Linked DNA regions of Homo sapiens: region 1 is linked to region 2. Evidence: fine-mapped expression QTL. A gene starts in region 2. The other region holds a variant in brackets. All regions are shown on one strand. Distances are between the middles of the regions. Region 1 holds the start of PRG2 (proteoglycan 2, pro eosinophil major basic protein). Region 2 holds the start of P2RX3 (purinergic receptor P2X 3).

Evidence for each region.
Region 1: its variant is fine-mapped to the expression of P2RX3 in left ventricle (GTEx, PIP 0.92).

What each region holds. Positions count from the first base shown.
Region 1 is chr11:57,389,932-57,399,476 of GRCh38, forward strand. PRG2 (proteoglycan 2, pro eosinophil major basic protein) reads right to left here and starts at 719. Exons shown (of 6, transcript NM_002728.6): 1 at 665-719; 2 at 1-25. The coding sequence starts at 13. The variant G/T (reference allele first, on the strand shown) is at 4,960.
Region 2 is chr11:57,333,589-57,343,268 of GRCh38, forward strand. It overlaps P2RX3 (purinergic receptor P2X 3), which reads left to right and starts at 4,764. Exons shown (of 12, transcript NM_002559.5): 1 at 4,764-5,081. The coding sequence starts at 4,963. SSRP1 (structure specific recognition protein 1) reads right to left here and starts at 2,304. Exons shown (of 17, transcript NM_003146.3): 1 at 2,142-2,304; 2 at 1,480-1,652; 3 at 875-1,060. The coding sequence starts at 1,533. RefSeq lists enhancers at 1,473-1,542, 2,393-2,442 and a silencer at 2,043-2,222.

The sequences.
Region 1 (9,545 bases), 56 kb after region 2:
AGGGGAGTTTCATCTTGGCTTTATCCTGCAACGGAGAACACAGTTTGTCATTGACACACACAGACACACATGCACACACATCACAATCACACCATTAGGGGACCGTGGGAGTGAGGTGGAGAAAAAGAAGGCCTGAATAGAAATCAGGATGGGCCAGAAAAGCTCATGCCAAGCCCAGCTCCTGATGCTCCAGGATCCAGGACGCAAGGACCTCTTTCTAAACAGAACGCAGCAAACCCTGAGGGGTGGCTGAGGCTGGCTTTCCTTCAGGCCCGGAAGTAAAGAAGGGACTATTACGCTTATTTGTTTGTACTTAATGGGTCCCTCAGAGTCTATGACATAAAAAAGGCGGGAGAAGCAATGATTATTGGCTTTCCTAGGAACACATAGGACTTAGAAGGTATGTCCCCTCCTCAGAGTTCAAGAAGCCACCCACACCCTCCTCCATGTCTCCACCATCTCCTTTCCCCAGCCAAGGAGCACTTTCACATCCCGCAGAAGGAATGTGCAAGGCAGAGGATGAAGGCTGCCCCTGCTGACATCCTCATAACCTGAAAGCCACAGGTAGACGCCTGCCAGCCCTCCAGAAACTGTCAGCCACAGCCAGGGACCTCCTGGGAGAATAAACTGTCACCAGCTCCACCACAGCAGAGAAAGCACTCACCCACCCAGAGACCTTCCTGGGTCTTTAGATCTTCCCAAAGCCCAGGTCCTTCTTTGCTTCCTCTCACAAAGACTTCTTATATAGAGGCCTTGGAGGAACTTCCCCCAGGGAGAGAGAGTTTGCCTCTGTCAGAGGGAGATAGCAAGGCTGATAAGGACCATTTCATCACTTCCCTGGGGAGCCCACTCATTCATTCAGTGAAGATTTCTCTCCCGATACCCACTTCAGGAACCCAGGGGCCATCTGGAACAGCTCTGGGCAATGGTTCTTATCCTGGGCTACACTTCAGAATCGCCTTGGGTGCTTTTCCAAAATACATATCTCCCCTGTTTTACTGGTGTTTTGAACTGCCACAAACATTTTGAGAACAAATCTGTCCATACCTATTAAAATAAAAAAATGCACATTTGATCAGTTTCACTCTTTTGAGACTATCCTTTAGGCATAAATGCGCCTATAAGTAATAAAACTTTTACAGAGTTATGTTATTCCTTGACTATTTGTAGAAATGAAAACAATATTGATATCCATCAATCGGACACTGAGTAAAATGTGTCCTCTCTATTCTACAGAATGTTATATGGCTATGAAAAGAAGAGCTGGACCTGTATCTATAAACCTGAAGAGATGTTTCTGTGACATGAAGTGAAAAAAGGCAAGATACTGAGGAAAGTATTTAGTATGTGAATAGTTTTACAAGGAAAAAAAAAACCCCCGCATAGGTGCTTATCTGTGAGCATCCTTATGTGACCATTGATGGAGGGAATGCTAAAAGGAATCACACCAAATAGTTGACCTTGTTGCCTCCAGAAGCAGGGGAGGAGAGGGAAGAAAGCAGGAGACAGATTGTTGTTTATCTTCTTTTTATAACTTTGCATTTCTTCAGTGGTTATGGTAAATGCGTGCTGAATCTGTAATTTTGAGGCTGCCTTATTAAAGATTTTTAAAAATATGCAGATGCCCTGCCCAGAAACTTCTGCTTGGCTAATAGGTCTAGCGTGAAGGTCAGATGTCTGCATTTTTTTAAAAGCTTCCCAGCTGACTGTGATGGAAGATGGGTCTAGGAGTCACTGTCCTGAGGATCTTCAAGTACAGGAAATGTTCACGTATGTCTAACTTCTTTCCTTCTGAATCAGACCACTCAGTTGGCCAACCTACCAGCCTTCATTATGGTAACATTTACTGAACATTTTTAAATGCCATGCATGGCAAGTGGCTGGATGCAGTGGCTCATGCCTGTGATCCCAGCACTTTGGGAGGCTGAGGTGGGTGGATCTTTTGAGGTCAGGAGGTTGAGACCAGCCTGGTCAACATTGCAAAGCCTTGTCTCTACTAAAAATACAAAAATTAGTCAGGCATAGGGGTGGCTGCCTGTAATCCCAGCTACTTGGGAGTCTGAGGCAGGAGAATCACTTGAACCCAGGAAGTAGAGGTTGCAGTGAGCTGAGATTGCACCACTGCACTCCAGCTTGGGCGAGAGAGTGAGACTCCGTTTCAATCAATCATCAATCAACAAAATACTGTTCATGGCAAGTATTACCTCATTTAACCTGATTTTAAAAACCTAGTGAGGTAGGTGGTTGATACCCCATTTTCCAAGTGAGACAACCCAGGCTCTGTGTGGCTCCTGATCTCCCCGCAACACTGCCCTTATTGGATCGATGCCCTGTATACACCCTCTTGTAGCTCCAGGGGCTTGTCCTTATCAGTTAGTCATTTTACTTTTCTTGTGAGATTACTTGGTTAATGGATTAACATCTGTCTTCCTTCGTGATGGTGAAGGCTGCATCTCTTTACTCACCATTGTATCCTTGGTGCTTAGTACAGTGCCCGGCACATAGTAGGTACTTAATAAATATACATTGAAGTAATTAATGGTTAAGTAACGTACTCACGTAAACAACAGGGTTAGAATTCAAATCCAGTTCTTTCTGGCACCAAACTTCTCTCCCCTCCCATATGCCTGCTTGTGTGTCAAAAATGATGCTATCCAGGTGGAGATAAAATCAGAGTGAAGCATAGATCCTGTATTCAATTAGCTTACAACCTAATTTGTAAGATGAGTAAATTGAGGTCAAACAAAAGGAGAAGGGTTAAGACCAAGCTAGGAAACATCCTCTGCTAATTCAGAAGGAAGTCCATGCATAGTAAAACAGAGCAGAAAAGGCTCCATGAACCAAGGAGCTGATTCCTACCTGGATGGAAAGATGCAATTAGAAGGGAAGGAAACAGGCATTTCAAGTAGAAGGAACAGCTTGAGCAAAGGTGTGGAGGTTGGACAGCCTTGGTATATGCACAGGACACTGTAATTTCCTTCATAACTAAAGTTAACAGTACACACATTGGGAAGGAATGAGAAAAACGAGGAACGATGCATTTCATCTTGAGCCGAGGATGGAGATAACCCTCCCCTGTCTCCATTGATTTAAAAAGACAGAAGCAGGAATCAAAGGAATACTCAACAAGAGCCTAGTCAGGAGCTTTGAGCTGGGCTCTGCGCACTCCCATCTGCAAGCCCTCCCCACAGGACCTCTTTGGCTGTTGGACAGAGGATTACTGTCATAAGGTGATGAGAGGGAGCCCATTCTTGGAAACCAGTTGACTGTTCAGGGACCCTCACTCCTAGGGAAGTCTCTCTTTTAGGTCATACAATCCAGGATCTGAAATCCACAGCTTAGCAACCCTGAAAATTTCATCAACATTCACTGGAAGTATACAGCAGTGTCTGAGAGGGTGGCTTCTGGAGTCAGACAGTCCAAGTCAGACTCAAATTGACTGGGTCTAGCACTTAATAGCTGCGTGTCGTGTCCTGGGCAAGTTCCTTAAACTTTCTGTACCTCATATCATCATTTATGAAGTAGGGATGACAATACCTACCTCACTGGGTAGTGTGAGAAATGAATGAGATAATTCACATGTAGCATGCATGCTGTGAGCTGCCCAGTCACCTCACCCCTTCCTGTGGTTTCTTGGATTCCATTTCCTATGGATCTTGGTGGAGGACAGGCCTCTCATTTTTGAAGACAAAAGTTCCTAATAGATTTTCAGCTTCCTTTGCAGCTAACGCATATGACTGGGCTCTATCAAAGAGAAGAAGCATCTATTCAAGATTTTGAATCTGGAGCTAGTGACCAAAAAGATGGAGGCCAAGAAGGCCTCTCTCTGGCGGTGGCGTTGACAAGATTGAGTTCCTGGAGTTGCAGTACCCACAGAGGCACTGCAGGATACATTGATCCAGGGTCTGAGCCCTACAACATCCTGGGTGCCAGACACAAGGTCTAGGTCTCAGCAGCAGTGGGATCCTCCCTAGACCTGTTCTGCAGCCTGACTTTGGCTCCATGTCTGGTTTTCCGGCCCTTCCTGCAATTTCATGAGCTACTCCGTTTCCTTTCAGTCCTGGATTTTTCTACTTAGATCAGCCAAGGAGAGTTTCTGCTGCCTGCCATTAAGAGCCCTGACTGATGCAGCATTTAGCACAGAAACTGGTATTTAGTAATTGCTTAGTAAATGAATGCTACCCAGGGTCTTTGAGTGTGACCAGCATTAATCAAACTTTCAAGAGACTGATGTCTACTTTTGGTGCCAATGACATAAATGAGGTTGAACGGTACTCACAAGGGGCCCACTTGCCCAGGCTCTCTGATAAGCACATTCTTTCCCTGCATCACAACTGTGGTGTGCTCAGGACTTGAATTTCAAATGGGAGCGAAGAGCTGGAGGCCTTGGGGTCCAGTGCCTTTGAGCAAGAGAACGATACCCATCATCTCCGTTTAATCCTCAGCCCTGCCTCCTTCCCCAAGAAATGTTGACTCATCACTGCAGGATCCTGAATCTTAGGCATCCTCCTTTCTAGCCCTAAAGTTACTACAGAGCTTGGAGGTTCCTAAACAGACTCAGTCAATCCTCTCCATACCAGCACTTCCAAAGGGGACCTGACAGATCACCTCTGCATTTAATCTTTTCTGATCTAATTCTCGGGGGGCTCATCCCAACTTTAGGCTTGTGGGGGAGTGTGCTGTAGCTCCTGGTACAAGCTGTCCAGGGTCAGACCTGGTACTGAGGGGTCTGCTCTTCTACAAGAGTGGGCTGTTGCAACAGGAGAAAAACATGTGTGCACCAGGCAGAGCAGAGATCACCTTGGAGATGGTGTCAATACCAAGGAGCTCTTGGGATGCCCCTCCCATGCCCAACCCCCAACACATGACAGCTTAAAGACTAAAAAAACCACCACAGCTCCAGATATGCAGCTCACACTATTCAGCCCTCACCTCCACCTGCATCCCTCCCCACACCCT[G/T]CAGCAGAGCTTTTCAACCTGGAAACTATGAATAGGCTTCAAGGGACCATGAACCCTGCAATTATAGAAAACATGGTGTGATGTTTCTAGGGTGAAGGTCCAAACCCTCCATGAGATTCTTTGATGACTTCCCAAAAGGCAAGAGAACCTCTAACTTTACTGAGTGATTTTTTTCTGGAAGAACCAAGAATGACATTCCACTGTTCTTCACCAATAAAGTCCTGCTTGGCCCTTTTGACAGGCAGAATTCAGTTGTCCCCTGGTGCACTGTGCATAATCCCTGGGACTGTAAATATGATGGATTTTACTCCTGTGGTTGTGTGATGTTACATGCCACAGTTGACTTTAAGGAAAAGGAACTGCCCTCTATGGGTATGATCTAATCAGGTGATCCCATAAAAGAGACAGGGCTCTCTTCCTGAAGTCAGAGAGTCCAACCATGTGGGTGATTCAATCCAAGGGAAATTCTCCATCACTGGCTTCAAGGATGGAAAAGACCACGCACGTGGCAAGCAATGTGGGCAGCCTCGAGGACCTGAGAGCAGCCCTCATCTGACAGTCAGCAAGAAAACAGGACCTCAGCCCTGCAACTCCAGGGAACAGAATTCTGCCACAACCACGTGAGCCTGGAAGAGAACCCTAAACTCCAGATGAGCACACAGCCCAGACAACATCTTGATTTTAGCCTTGTGAGACCCTGAGCAGAAAACCTAGCCATGCTGGGCCCACACTGCTGATGAACTCACGATGAGCTAATAAACATGAGTTGTTTGAAGCTGCTAAATTTGAGGCAATTTGTTATGCAGAATAGAAGACTAATACAGCCCTCAAGGCCCATCTCCCTCCCACGGTGAAATTTACAGTGGGTGTAGGGATTGGCAGAGAAGGGTCCCACAGGAACGGGCTGAGGAGCTGCTGGAAAATAACGAAGGTACAGCAGAGAGGTAAGATGGACACTGAGAAAGGGAGGTTTGATTCAGGCCAGAGATCCCACCATTCTCTCCCTCAGACCATAGGAAGCCAGGTGGCCCTTCTAGTTACATGTTCTGCTCCAGGATTCTCTCCCCACCCTCAGAAAAGTGACAGACTCCAGGGACCTGATCTCTGGGGCTGATCAACTGCTTGTTAACTGGGCTTGGCCAACATCCCCACGGGGCAGATAAAAGCTGGTGAAAGAGCTAACGCCACTGCAAGGGTGAATGGCTCGGGAGATATGGACTGGGCGGTTGTTCTGTGAAATCGGCCTGGACAACAGTTCCCCATTTGGATGCCCCAACAATTGACATAGACCAAGACGATTGGCATGTGAGATCTGGAAGGCCCCTTAGAAACGAACCAGCACAGTCCCCACGTCTCAGATGGGTTCTTCCCGCTTCCTCAGGAAGTGACATTATCCTCTTTCCCCTCCAGGAACCTCTGCTCCCAGAGACCATGAACACTCAGTGAGCTTAGAAGGAATATGTCTTTGCAGTAATTGCCTCCCCTGCCCCATCTTCTACCTTCCCCAGTCCGTCTACTTCTCCCTATCTCTGCTGCCACCTCACTAGCCCCTGCGACCATATTTGATAACATGTATCACAGGCCATTGTCCCCATGCTTCCCATTCAAAGTCTTCCCACATAGTAGCAATTAACCCAAACCCATTACCACCATCTGCAAAGTCTTTCATGATCAGGCTCTTGTCTACAAGCTCAAACTCACTGGCATGACAAGTGACCCTTGTCATCCTGGTCCCAGCTCCACTGGCCAAGCTAAAGCATTTGTACTGGTTAAAAGGCCACCTCCTCAGATAAGCCTTCTCCGAGAACTCTTTCTAAAAGAAGCCCACCCACCCCACTCTCCTATTTGGTACTTTTGTTACACATCATCACATTTATTTCCACAAGAACATTTACCAAAATGATATAATCTTGCTTTCTTACTGGTTTCTTGTTTATTATCTCTCTCCTTCAGAAAGCAAACTTCATGACAACAAGGACCTTGTCTGTCTTGTTCACTGCCTATAACTCTGCCCAGGTCATAGAAGGAGTTTTTCCATTACATAATGAATTAATTAATCAATTGACTAATCAACTTGAACTTTACCCCCTGGAGAAAGTTTAGCTGAGTTTAGATCAGAGCACACATGCATTTATTTCGATTCTACAGGTATTTTCTGAGCCTCATCCACCATGGACACAAGCCTCTACCAGGCTCTGGATCATCGATTGATTCATTCATTTATTCAACAAATACTTAAAGAGAATCTCTAGTTGCAGGGAGGTTTAAGGTAGCTGATAAATAAGGCAAACAGAACGAGCATATTAGTAAAACAAGGCAATATATTGAGGAGATACTCAGAAGTGTAGAACTAACATGAATGGAAGAGACACACATTTTCAGTGTTGTCAGGATCACTTAAAGTGTGACGGCAGGCAGAGAAGGCTTGCTTGAGGAGGTAGCGCTTAGCCTGGGCTCAACAGACTGACAGATAGGATAGGATAAGCAGAGGAGAAGTGGGATGGCATTTCTAGGGGCCAACCATCTCCTGGTAGTGCTGGAATTTGAGCCAGGATATGGATGATTTTGTGTTTCTTGGAGGTTAAGTCAATGAGTGAGCTGGCTTCTCTGCTTTGCACCAAAGCCAAGCTCCTCCAGCAAGTGGTGTAGACTCGCTGGCCACTTCCTCAACACCCTCTTCCTCCTCTTACCATAGCAGTCTTGTTTCTGTTATCCCTATTGCTCCACCAAAACTGCTTTTGCCCAGGTGCCCACTGACTACCCCATTGCCAAACCCAACAGACATTCTTCAGTTCTTATCCTACTTGACCTCTGCAGTAGTGATACCTCTTCACTTCCCCCTTCTTAAGAACTGCTTCCCTTCTCAGTAGCCTTTGTGGCCATTCCCTCCCAATTTCTGTTGGCAGGCTCCTCTTATTCTTCCAGATGGTTAAATATTGGGGATCACCTGGCTTCTTGGTGCACGTCTCTCCTAATTCTGCACACCCACCACGGGTTATGTCATCTACTCTTGTGGCTCAAGCTACCAAATATATACGCAGATCATTCCCAAGTCTTCATCTCCAGCCCCAGGCCTGTTTCTGAGCTGCAGACTCACACATATGGTCACCCAAGATGCTTCTCCACTTGGATGTCCCATGGACATTGTGAGTCCAACACATCTCAGACTGAACTCAACACACACACACACACACACACACACACACGCACAAACCTGCTTCACTTTTTGTGGTCACTTTCTCAGGAGAAACCATCACCTTCCAACTAGACCTGCAAGGCAGGACTCTGGTCATCCTTCACCCCTCCTGCCCATCATCCACACATTAGTTAGTTATAGTGCTTTCTTCACCATCTCATCCAGCCACCCATCCCCATTGCCTCTGCCACTTTCCTAGTCACCTGCTGACCGTTTTTCACCTGGATCATTTCAGTGGCTCCCAAATTACTTTCCCTGCCTCCAGTCTTACCACCCTCCTCCACCTCTGATGCACTGTCTACAAGCAGCCAAAATGAGCTTTCTAAAACCCAGAGCTAATCACACCAGCACTTTCCAATTACTCCTTCTTGCTCTCAGGCACAGTCTCCTTATGTTTTAGCGCCTACTTACCTAAACCTCTCAACACTGTGGACATTTTTGACTGGATACTTTTTTGTTACAGAGGCCTGTCCTGTGCATTGTTAGATGTTTAGCAGCCTCTCTAGCCTCTACCAAAAAGATACTAGTAGTACCTTCTCGGCTGGGCTGTGACAATCAAAAAATGTCTGCAGACATTACCAAATGTCCCCTCTGAGGCAAAACTATGCTCAGTTGAGAACCACTTCTTGACAACCTCAATTCTCCCCCTCACCACACACACACAGTGCTCCAATCATGTTGAACACCCTGCTATTTTCCTAACATGCCATGATCACCCATATTTTGTCACATGTCATTTCATCTGCCCAGAATGCCCTTTCCTCCCTAACCACTGCGCTCTTTCCTTTTCTTCATCGAAGTTTCAGCCAAGGATCACCTCTTCCAGGAAGCCTGCCTTGGCTCTCCCAGAGAAAGGTAGCAAGGACACTAATCAGGGCTTCTCTCTAGTCCAGCCCTCTTCCCACCTCATTGTAGCAATCTTCTTGCTGTTTCCCCAGTAGAGCCAGAGCCTTGCTTCCTTCACCTGTGCCTCTCTGGTCCTGCACAGTTCTGGAAACACAGTACAGGCTCAATTCATGTTTGCTGTGTAAGTGAATAAATGAAGAAAAGCAATTTTTGTTTAAGCTTGTCAAAGATTGAGTTGGGCTCCCTGAAATGAGATCTTAGGCAGAAATTTTAATAACGATAACAACAGCAGCAACTAATATTTAGGAAGTGTTTCTAGGTGCTAAGTATGTTAAGTGCTCCATATTATTCAACCTTCTAAACAACTCTAGGACACAAGTGCCATTAAACTACCTAAATTACAGACAAACAGCTGATCCTGGGAATGGTTAAGTCATTTTCCAGGTAAGTGTCAGAGCCAGGATCCGAATGGAGCGGCTGCACTCTTGTCCGTGACTCACTTCCCCTGTGGTGGTGAATAACTAGCACAAAGCCATTTACATAC
Region 2 (9,680 bases):
TAACACCGACTTGAATGTCCTGGGATTATCTATTTCTGAGAAACTGCCCCAAATAGGCTTTATAAGAAATCCATGCTGACTTAGCAACCCAGCTCATGGTAAGATTGTTGAAAGAGATTGCTTCTAGCCACTGGATCTGACATTCCTGGTTACGGGCCATCTGACTTTATAAACTTTGTATAGGTATTACTTTAATGAAAGTGGAAATTAAAATCAAATAAAGCCTTTAACTCAAGCAGTTCAAAAAGGAAAACAAAACCCACACTTTAAGATATCAAGCTAGCCAGGCGCAATGGCTCACGCCTGTAATCTCAACCCTTTGGGAGGCCAAGGTGGGCGATCCCTTGAGTCTGAGAGCTCAAGACCAGACTGGGTAATGTGGCAAAACGCCGTTTCTACCAAAAATTATTAAAAATCAGCTGGGCATGGTGGCATGTGCCTGTGGTACCAGATACTCAGGAGGCTGAGATGGAAGGATTACTTGAGCCCAGGAGGCGGAGGCTGCAGTAATCCGAGATTGCGCCACTGCACTCCAGCCTGGGTGACAGAGCAAGGCCCTGTCCCCAAAAAAAACCAAAAACACACATACACACAAAGAAATCAAGCTAAGATTCTGAACCTTGATAAAAGCCACAGGCAGAAACTACTATCTAAATCAAGACAGAAGAAAATCTTCTGGAGTCAAGGCACACAGAAATTCACAAGACTTCAACGCTCAAAGCCAAACACTGATTGCCTGATGGCCTCACAGCCCTGCTCTAAGGAGCCCAAACTAGCAATCACAGGGTTACATGAGGAAGGAACCTCGAGTCTCTAGAAGATTAAAATAAGAAGATGCAGTAAAAAGGAGGCTTATAGCCATGGGACATCTCACCGATTCTCGGAAGCCATCATACTTGTAGACATGGCCATTCTTTGTAAGCAGTTTAAGTCCATGGCCCAGAGCAACACGGCGCCAGATACCTTCTGTTAACTCCCCAGCCTGGATGTTGTCCACTTTGCCTGTCTTGCTATTCTTGAAGATGATGCCCTGACGGCTCAACCTCAGTCGACCATCATTCTGTAAGAAAAGCAGGCCCAGATGCATGGAGACAGTACACAGCATGTCCTGGGTTCTACAGCTCTACCTAACACACATTCCTGCTGCAAGTGGACTGGCCAGATTATCAATGCAGGAGCAACAGCTGAGGGTGCCAAGGAGTCTAGATTCTAAACCAGACTCTGGTATCTAGAACCCTTAACAGATTCTCAGTTTCCTCATTTGTAAAACAGGAATTGGGAACTGAACAGCATATACGGTCCCTATAACTCTGAGACTATCTCTCAGTATTGCCTTGAGTTGGTGGAGACACTAGGTACACATTATACTGAGTCTTCTTTTTCCAAAATAACGTTACCAAAGCAAGCTCTCATTAATGGACAAAAACTCTACCCTCCTTCCTTCTCTCTACTTGTATCACCTGTCCAAGCCATTCTCACCATGGAACCTTTCACCTCCTGATAGACGTCGTTGAACTCCAGTGTCTCTGCCATGTCGACCCCTGCCTGTGGTGGCCTGGGCAGAGCCCCAGGCTGCACAAGGGAAACCAAGTAAACTGGGAGCTGGGCCCCAACTCCTGAGTGGGTGTGCGGATGCTCAGCAGGTTGGGAATCTGAATTCAAGAGGAAGACAGATAAGCATGAAAGACAGCACCTCGCTGTGCTCACGGATGGAGCCAGGTAGCAACTCCCAGCTGCGCCTGGATGTCTCAGGATTTCCTCTGCCTGGAAACCTACAGACGGACGCTGCAGTGCCCGAGGGTCCAGGTCCAGGCCTGGGTGGAGAACCGGGCCCGGAATACCGCTGACACCCAACCCGACGCCCGCTCTGGCCGCTCCGGCGGGAGCCATGGCAACGAGCAGCGGAACCCCAGGGTCTGCCAGGAGCCCGCACATCGCACGCGACCCAATCCAGCTCAGAGTGCAGGGTTTCCCTCGCACCGCTCCCACCACCCCGCGGCCCCAGACCCACGGTTCACCCCCGCCCCACATAATGGATTCGCCCGCTCCCCGCGGTTGCGAACGCGGAATGGTCCATGTCGAGGGTCCCGTGGGGGAGCGGGGCCCCTGCCTTCCTGGGACCGGGGACGACCACCACCTACCTCCTCAGGCTGCGGCCTCGCGAGGGCCCCGGCGCGAGAGGTGGGCGCGCTGGGGGGACGCGGGGGGGGCGCGGGGAGGGGGATGGGGGGACACCGGGGAAGCTTTTCCCGCGTGCGCGGCCCCGCGTCCCGCCACCGGAAGCCGTACACAGGCCACAGAGAGGATGAGCTGGCTAGAGAGACGCGAGTCGGGCCCGCCTGCGAGACAGTCGCATAGAGCGTCAGCGACTCTGGAGGACCTGAGGGAAGGGTGGTTGCCGTGAAGCCTCTCTCACCCAGGGGGAATCCGGCCTAGAAAATGTGTGTAGGGCTCTTTAGAAACTACAGACACTTCTTCAGTCGAGACTAGATACTAAAGAGAAATTGTGTAGTTTTATTGTATCAGACTTAGTACAGGGGTGGGGTGGGGGTGTGTATTGGAATGATGCGTGCCCGTTTCTCTGCAAAATAGTTTCTATGTCATGGAAAGGAGTCGATGGGACAAGAAGAGAAGTATTTGAACAGTTGTGGGAGGAAACGACCTCTCCCACTGGCTGCGGAGAGTATGCGGGTGTTGGTGTCATCGTGGGTGCACTGCTTTCTGGCTGAACTGTCAAGTTCACTGTCTACACCCAAAATTTTCACATCCTTAACCGAAAATTATAGGTACCTCCAAGAGGCTGGCAAACGGCCTTATCCAGTTCAAGTCCTGGTGTCAGATTCACCTTGGAGCCAGAACTGATTTGAAACCACATCATCCTGTGGTTGCGGAAGCCAGGTCTCCCCCGTATAATCCCAGAGTGCATTTTGCAACATCAGAGACCAGACCTGGAAAAGATGTTTTAGTTTTTCTACCCCAACCTCCTTTTACTGATGGGAAAACTGAGACCCAAAGGGGAGTGAGTTGCCCAGGGTCTCAGTGCGTTGGCAACAAGGCTAGGTAGGACCCAGACCTCCTTAACACCACCAGTCCAGTTATCTTCTGTCATAATCACAGTGACTGTATGTTCAGAATGACTATTGATATGTGTCCTACATGAAGACATTAGTACAGAATATGTAAGCTCAAGATTTCCCTGACAATCAATACACCAGCTTGCTAAATCAATCCTGGGGTAAGAGACAACAGGAATGCACCCTTCTCCCCTGAACTCATAGCTTTAACCTCTGAGTAGTGGCTATTCCAGCATTATCTAGCAAAATAAATTCAACTGGGTTTAATAAATAGATATTGAGGGCCTATTACTACTTTAGCACACTTCTCAGATTTGAGGAAACTTGAACAAGGTGAAAACATCCCCGGCCAGGCACGGTGGCTCACACCTGTAATCCTAGCACTTGGGGAGGCCAAGGCAGGGAGATCACTTGAGGTCAGGAGTTTGAGACCAGACTGGCCAACGTGGTGAAGCCCCGTCTCTATTAAAAATACAAAAATTAGCCAGGCGTGGTGGCGGGTGCCTATAATCCCAGCTACTCAGGAGGCTGAGGCATGAGAATTGCTTGAACCCAGGAGGCAGAGGTTGCAGTGAGCTGAGATTGTGCCACTGCACTCCAGCCCGGGTGACAGAGCGAGACTCTGTCAAAAAAAAAAAAAAAAAGAAAGAAAGAAAAAGAAAAAAAAAAGGAAGGGAAGGAAAGAAAGAAAAAAAAAAAAAACAGAAAAAAAAACCCAGCCCCAACCTTTCAGGAAAACATAATCTAACAAATGACTTTAATAAATAAAGTGACAGTTAAAAAAAAAAGAAGTTGGCACATATACACCGTGGAATACTATGCAGCTGTAAAACAGGATGAGTTCATGTCCTTTGCAGGGACATGGATGAAGCTGGACTCCATCATTCTGAGCAAATTATCACAAGGACAGAAAACCAAACACCGCATATTCTCACTCATAGGTGGGAATTGAACAATGAGAACACTTGGACACAGGGTGGGGAACATCACACACACCAGGGCCTGTCGCGGGGTGGGCGGAGTGGGGAGGGATAGCATTAGGAGATATACCTAATGTAAATGACGGGTATATTTACAGTTAACGGGTGCAACACACCAACATGGCACACGTATACATATGTAACAAACCTGCACGTTGTGCAGGTTTACCATAGAACTTAGAGTATAAGAATAATAATAAAAAGAAAACAAAACAAAAAAGACGTGCTAACTGCTATGCTACAGGTAGAGCGAAGCTCATTACCAGCTGGAGTTAGAAATATGTGACTCTTTACTCATCACACCCCAGAAGACCCAGAAAAACTTTCAAGAGACCTTTTCCCCCTGACCCATGCCACTGGGGGCAACTCAGGAAAGGAGGGGACGGCGCAGAACTGGGTGGAATTTGGCAGACACTCAGGAATGAAGAGGGTCCTTAGCTCAGGCAGGCTATTAGGTGACTGGGGGATGGGAAATTGCAAGGGGCTTTAGGGAGAGTGTGAGCAGCTGGTGAGCTGGGATGAGGATGCTGCAGAAGAGAACAGAACAGAAACAGTAGACAGAGTGCAGATAAAACATTAGTCCCAGAGGGCTCCAGCCAGCTACATCCCAGGCAATCAGGAGCCCAGGATTGGAGACCCCACCCCTGCTGTGACATCACAGGGGAGTGGAGTGGAGACGAACAAAAAGGGGGTCCCCCGCCCTGGTCCTGGCCTCTTGGAAGCCAGAGTATCAAGAGCAGAGAATCTCACTAGGATTGCATGGCTTAAAGGGACAGGCTCCCCATTCCTCCAACCCCTCTAAGCTGCCCCCTCCAGGTCGTGATCTCGTCTCCCTGTCCTGTAGGACCTCCCTCTCCTGAGGCCACCACTGGGCCCCCTTCTGAGTGTCCCCTGAGCACTCTCTCAGCATGAACTGCATATCCGACTTCTTCACCTATGAGACCACCAAGTCGGTGGTTGTGAAGAGCTGGACCATCGGGATCATCAACCGAGTAGTTCAGCTTCTGATCATCTCCTACTTTGTAGGGTGAGTCTGTGGCCTTTCAGGTTCCTGGCGGGGTGGGCTGCCTGGTATCCCGTCTTCACCCTCCTGCCTCGGTGCTACCATCCAGCTTCCTGAGCTCCTCTGCTCCTGGGGGAAACAGTTTCTTCTGTGGAGCCGAGTCTTAAAGACTGGCCTCTGCCACCCCCACCTAGGGCCTAAATTCACCCAGGTGAATTCTTTTCCCAGTTCGTCCTCCAGGGTTGAGATTGGTTTCAAGACACACGCTCGGAGTAGTAGGGTCCCTGCCCCGGCACTGCCCTCCACCGAGGGAGGGCTCAGGAGCTCCATCTCCACCCTCCCTGCTCTCATCTCCCCAACAAGAGAACAGGCAGACCCCCTCCCACATCTTCGAATTCCCCTCAGTCAAGTCTTCGGGGTCTCAAAAAGACAAGACAGCACAGGAATAGGGAAGGGAAGGCACTGAGACAAGGGGGTGGTGGCAGGTTGATCAAGTTGGTGGCCGGGAGGGAAAGAGAGAACTGGATCTGTTTTAGAATGAGGAATTTCCTTCTGGCATGGATGGGTGAGATGGTGAGAGAGAGAAGGGCAAGGGAGAAGCCCTCTGCTCTTGAAGGGGAGGACAAAGAGGGAACTGCCCCTTGATGAGGAAACAAACAGAGGCCCAAGGGAAGAGTGGCCAAGGAGAAAAGGAGCTTTTCTGAACATAGTGCCGCTCCCTCCCCAGGAATCCAGAAATGCTCCCCTTTGTCAAAAAGTGTAAGTTCCCTACCTCTCCCTGACCCTGTGCCATGTAACCCATCCTAGGAGTTGCTTAAGAGCCAGGAAGGTGCAACCATCCCCTCAGCCCCCACCGCCTGCAAGCACACACCTACACACACACACACACACGCACACAAAGGGCTGTGGAGCAGACAATGGCTGGGGAAGAATGCAGGTCCTGTCCTTCTTGTGGTCATTTCCACACACTGGTGGGCACCAGGAAATACAGGCAGAAACCTCGAAGGTTTTCTTTCCTGGCATGCGGGTCTCCAATCTTATGCTGTTCTTTCAGACAATGGGTCTTTGCATTTGAGGCAGCAATCCACTGACTGTCAGGAGTTAGTTCAAGCAGGTCAAAGGAGAATCCTGTGTGCCTGTGGGCTGAAGCTGCATGCAAACCTGCTTGCTTGAAATGTTGAAGTTTATGCGAGGGTGTGGAGGGAAAGGTGGCTAGATGTGACTTTTTAGGTGATTTTTTGCTCTGTGTGCTGGGCAAGCCCTGGTAGGCTTCAGTGGGCAGGTATTGTAAAAAGGCTGTACCATCCAGTGCTCCTTTGGGAGATTTTAGAAAAGGGATTCAAGCTTTGGAATAGCATTAAATGGCCACAAAGTTCCCTTCCAATGTTGAGGTTTTGTGAGATACGAGGTTTGCAAATGTTCGCTGTCTGCATCTCTAGAGCTTGGCTCAAAGTTGGTTCCTAAATGTTCTGTGTTCACGTGTATATTCAATGCTGTGGTTGTTTATAGCCACAAGATGGTATGTTGGCCCAGGTGAGTGCAAAATCTGGCTCAGCACATTCCCCTTCTGGCCTGGCTCCACTGGCTCCAGGCAGAGATTGATGGGGGAGAGAGTGGGCTCCTAGACCAGCCCGCTCAGCCCCCACTGCCCTTGTCTCTGTCTCATCATGATCAGATAGAATCCTCCAGTCCTCAGGGCTGGAGCCCAGCCTGCTGGAGCGAGTGTGCGAAGCTCTTTAGCATCTTAATTTCCAACCCCATCCATCTCCTAGCCTGACAGCTCCCCACGGGACACTGCCTTCCAGTTACATCAGCGCCCTCTGCAGCCCAGCCCCCTGACCTGAGTCCCATCTCCGTGTATGTGAACCCATGCACGTTGTGACTTCATGAGTCCACCGTCATTAATTTAGCAAAAATGTACCAGCATCTCTGCATGCCAGGCACTGTGGATTGAGGACGGAATGGTGGGCAAAAGCAGACAGGGTCCTCGCCCTCCTGGGGCTTACAGCGGAAGGCAAGAGATGGCATTCATCTGATGATCTCCACAAACGTGAAATGTCAACTGTGGCTTAGAGGTGCACAGTTATAGAGAGCCGCTTCTGTGAAGGTGTTTGGCCCAGTCAGGGAGTAAGGGAAGGTTTTCTGGAGATGTGACATTTTAGCCAAGACCCGAAGGATGAGTAAGAGCAGCCCAGGTGAAAGAGGGAAGGAAGAGAGTTCAGGGCAGAGAAACCCACCTCTGCAAAGGGAAGGAGGCTGGCAAACAGGGGAAAGAAAAGAAGGTCATTGTGGCTGGAGCCGAGGGAGCAGAGATGAGTGAGGGTGGTGTACGGTGGATGGGAACACACACAGAGGCCGGACCTCAGACACCCTTAGAGAGCTTTTGTTTTTACAGGAGATGAATAAACAGAAGCCATGGAAGCATTTTAACCCGTGTGTCTGTGTGCACTTTTGTGTGTGTGTGCACGTGAGTTTGAGAGAGAGAGAGACAGACACGATGAGATCTGAGTTGGGAAGAGCACCTGGGCTGATTCCCTGGAAGTGGAAGGAGTAGGAGTGGGTGCAGGAAAACCTGCTAAGAGGCAGTTTATGCAGAGAGGTGACAGTGGCTTGGACCCAATCGAATTTGAAGGGATTTTTAAGGCTATAGTGTTAATATTTCACTGATACTTCAATCTCTTCCCCATCATCCCAACCAGGTCAACAACCTAGACTCTGCCTAACATGAGTCCATCATTTCTCTGAGAACTTCTCAGCAACACACCACCTGGTCATCTCACATACGCTCTCACCCCCGCCCCTGGCCTCAGCTGCTTGTCTGTGGTTGACACCATTTCATCACTATTTTCCTTTACCCACTCCAGGGCACACAGAGAGGCCTGGACTTACCTGATGTTTCTCACATCTTTTCTGGGTCCACGTGGTAATCCCCACTCACCTCTGTGGAGTGGGACTTCCCGAGAGCCCATCCCCGTTCTGGATCCTTTGGGGACCTGAGAAGTTGAAGGAAATCCCTAGGATCTGAGTCCCTGGAAGCAATAGCCTGTGCTTGGCCTGAGGTTGATTTCCAGGGCCTTCCTGGAGGAAGCTGCCTCCTTGCAAACTAGGAGGCCAGGGACTTCCCAGGCCTTTGATGCCCCATTGTGCTGAAGGGTCACTGGTGGCTGCTGGAGCCTCTGACCCCACCACAGCCCTGCCCTACCTGCCCTGTTCCTCCCCCATACAAGACCCAGTCCACAAACTTGCCATCTGTACAGCCCCATGCTTTGGTTCATAAAATTCAGCCTCATTTCAGATCTTAGGTGGGAGTTCAATACATAAAGCAGGTGAAAGGGAGGAGCTGCTCTGGTTTAAAGAGAAGGGTCTAGAATCCTGCCTTCTTGGCTCTCCACTCCATCCTCTCAGCCCAGGGTATCACTGTGAGGCACCTTGTCAGCACAATTAAGTGACAGATATGGTGGAAAGAGCTGTTATGGTGGGAAGAACTGTTGGGCTGCCCCATCTTTTTTTTTTTTTTTTTTTTTTTTTTTTTGAGACGGAGCCTTGCTCTGTCCCTCAGGCCGGAGTGCAGTGGTGCAATCTCGACTCACTGCAACCTCCGCCTCCTGGGTTGAAGCGACTCTCCTGCCTCAGCCTCCCCGGTAGCTGGGATTACAGGCCTGTGCCACGACGCCCGGCTAATTTTTGTATTTTTAGTAGAGATGGGGTTTCACCATGTTGGCCAGGCTGGTCTCGAACTCCTGACCTCAAGTGATCCACCTGCCTCGGCCTCCCAAAGTGCAGGGATTACAACATGAGTCACCATGCCTGGCTGGATGCCCCATCTGGACCAGTCATCCTGGTCCAGAGAGAGGAGTGACTCTCATTCCTGCCTGCCCTCTCCCCCAATATGGAACGTAGAGCACTTGGTTAGAAGCCTGGCTCTGACACCAACTAGGAGAGGGCCTCCTAAGAGTGACTTTACATCTCTAAGTCTCAGTCCCCATATCTGGAAAATGGATTTAGGAATACCTCCTCCCTGGGAGTTATAGGGAGGGGAGGTAACATATGTCAAGTGCCTTGCGGAGATGGTGACTCAGTAATAGATGGCAACTGCGACTACTTCACAAAGACCCCCCCATCACCCCTCCCCCTTTCCCTCTGCCCAGCTCACACCTTCCTAAGAGACCCCTCTCCTCCTCCCACACACACAGCGTGCACTCTTCACACCCACTCCCCAGCCTCCTCCTTGGCTCCCTGGGGGCGGATGGGAGGGTGCTGGGGCGCGGCTCTGGCCTCTCTCCTGCACATCCCACCTGCCAAGGAGCTGCCACACGCCTTCCGCTCTATAAATAATAAACCATGAATGCGAGAAGAAAATAGTCAGAGCAGCAGAGTAAATGCCAAGAATCGAAGGCTCAGGCCTGCCCTAGCTCCTGAGCCCTGGCCTCCAGAGACAGCCTCAGCCCCTCCGTTCTGGAAATGAAGCATCCCCTTCTTTCTAGCTGCCTTGATGACATCCCGAGGCCCTGTGAGGCCATTGAAATTCTTCCACTTGTTATTTAAGTCAGAGAGAGAATTCTAATGTGGCCTCTCCACCCCACTGGGCACAAGAAGGAGCCTTGAAGGAGGAGGAGGAGGAGG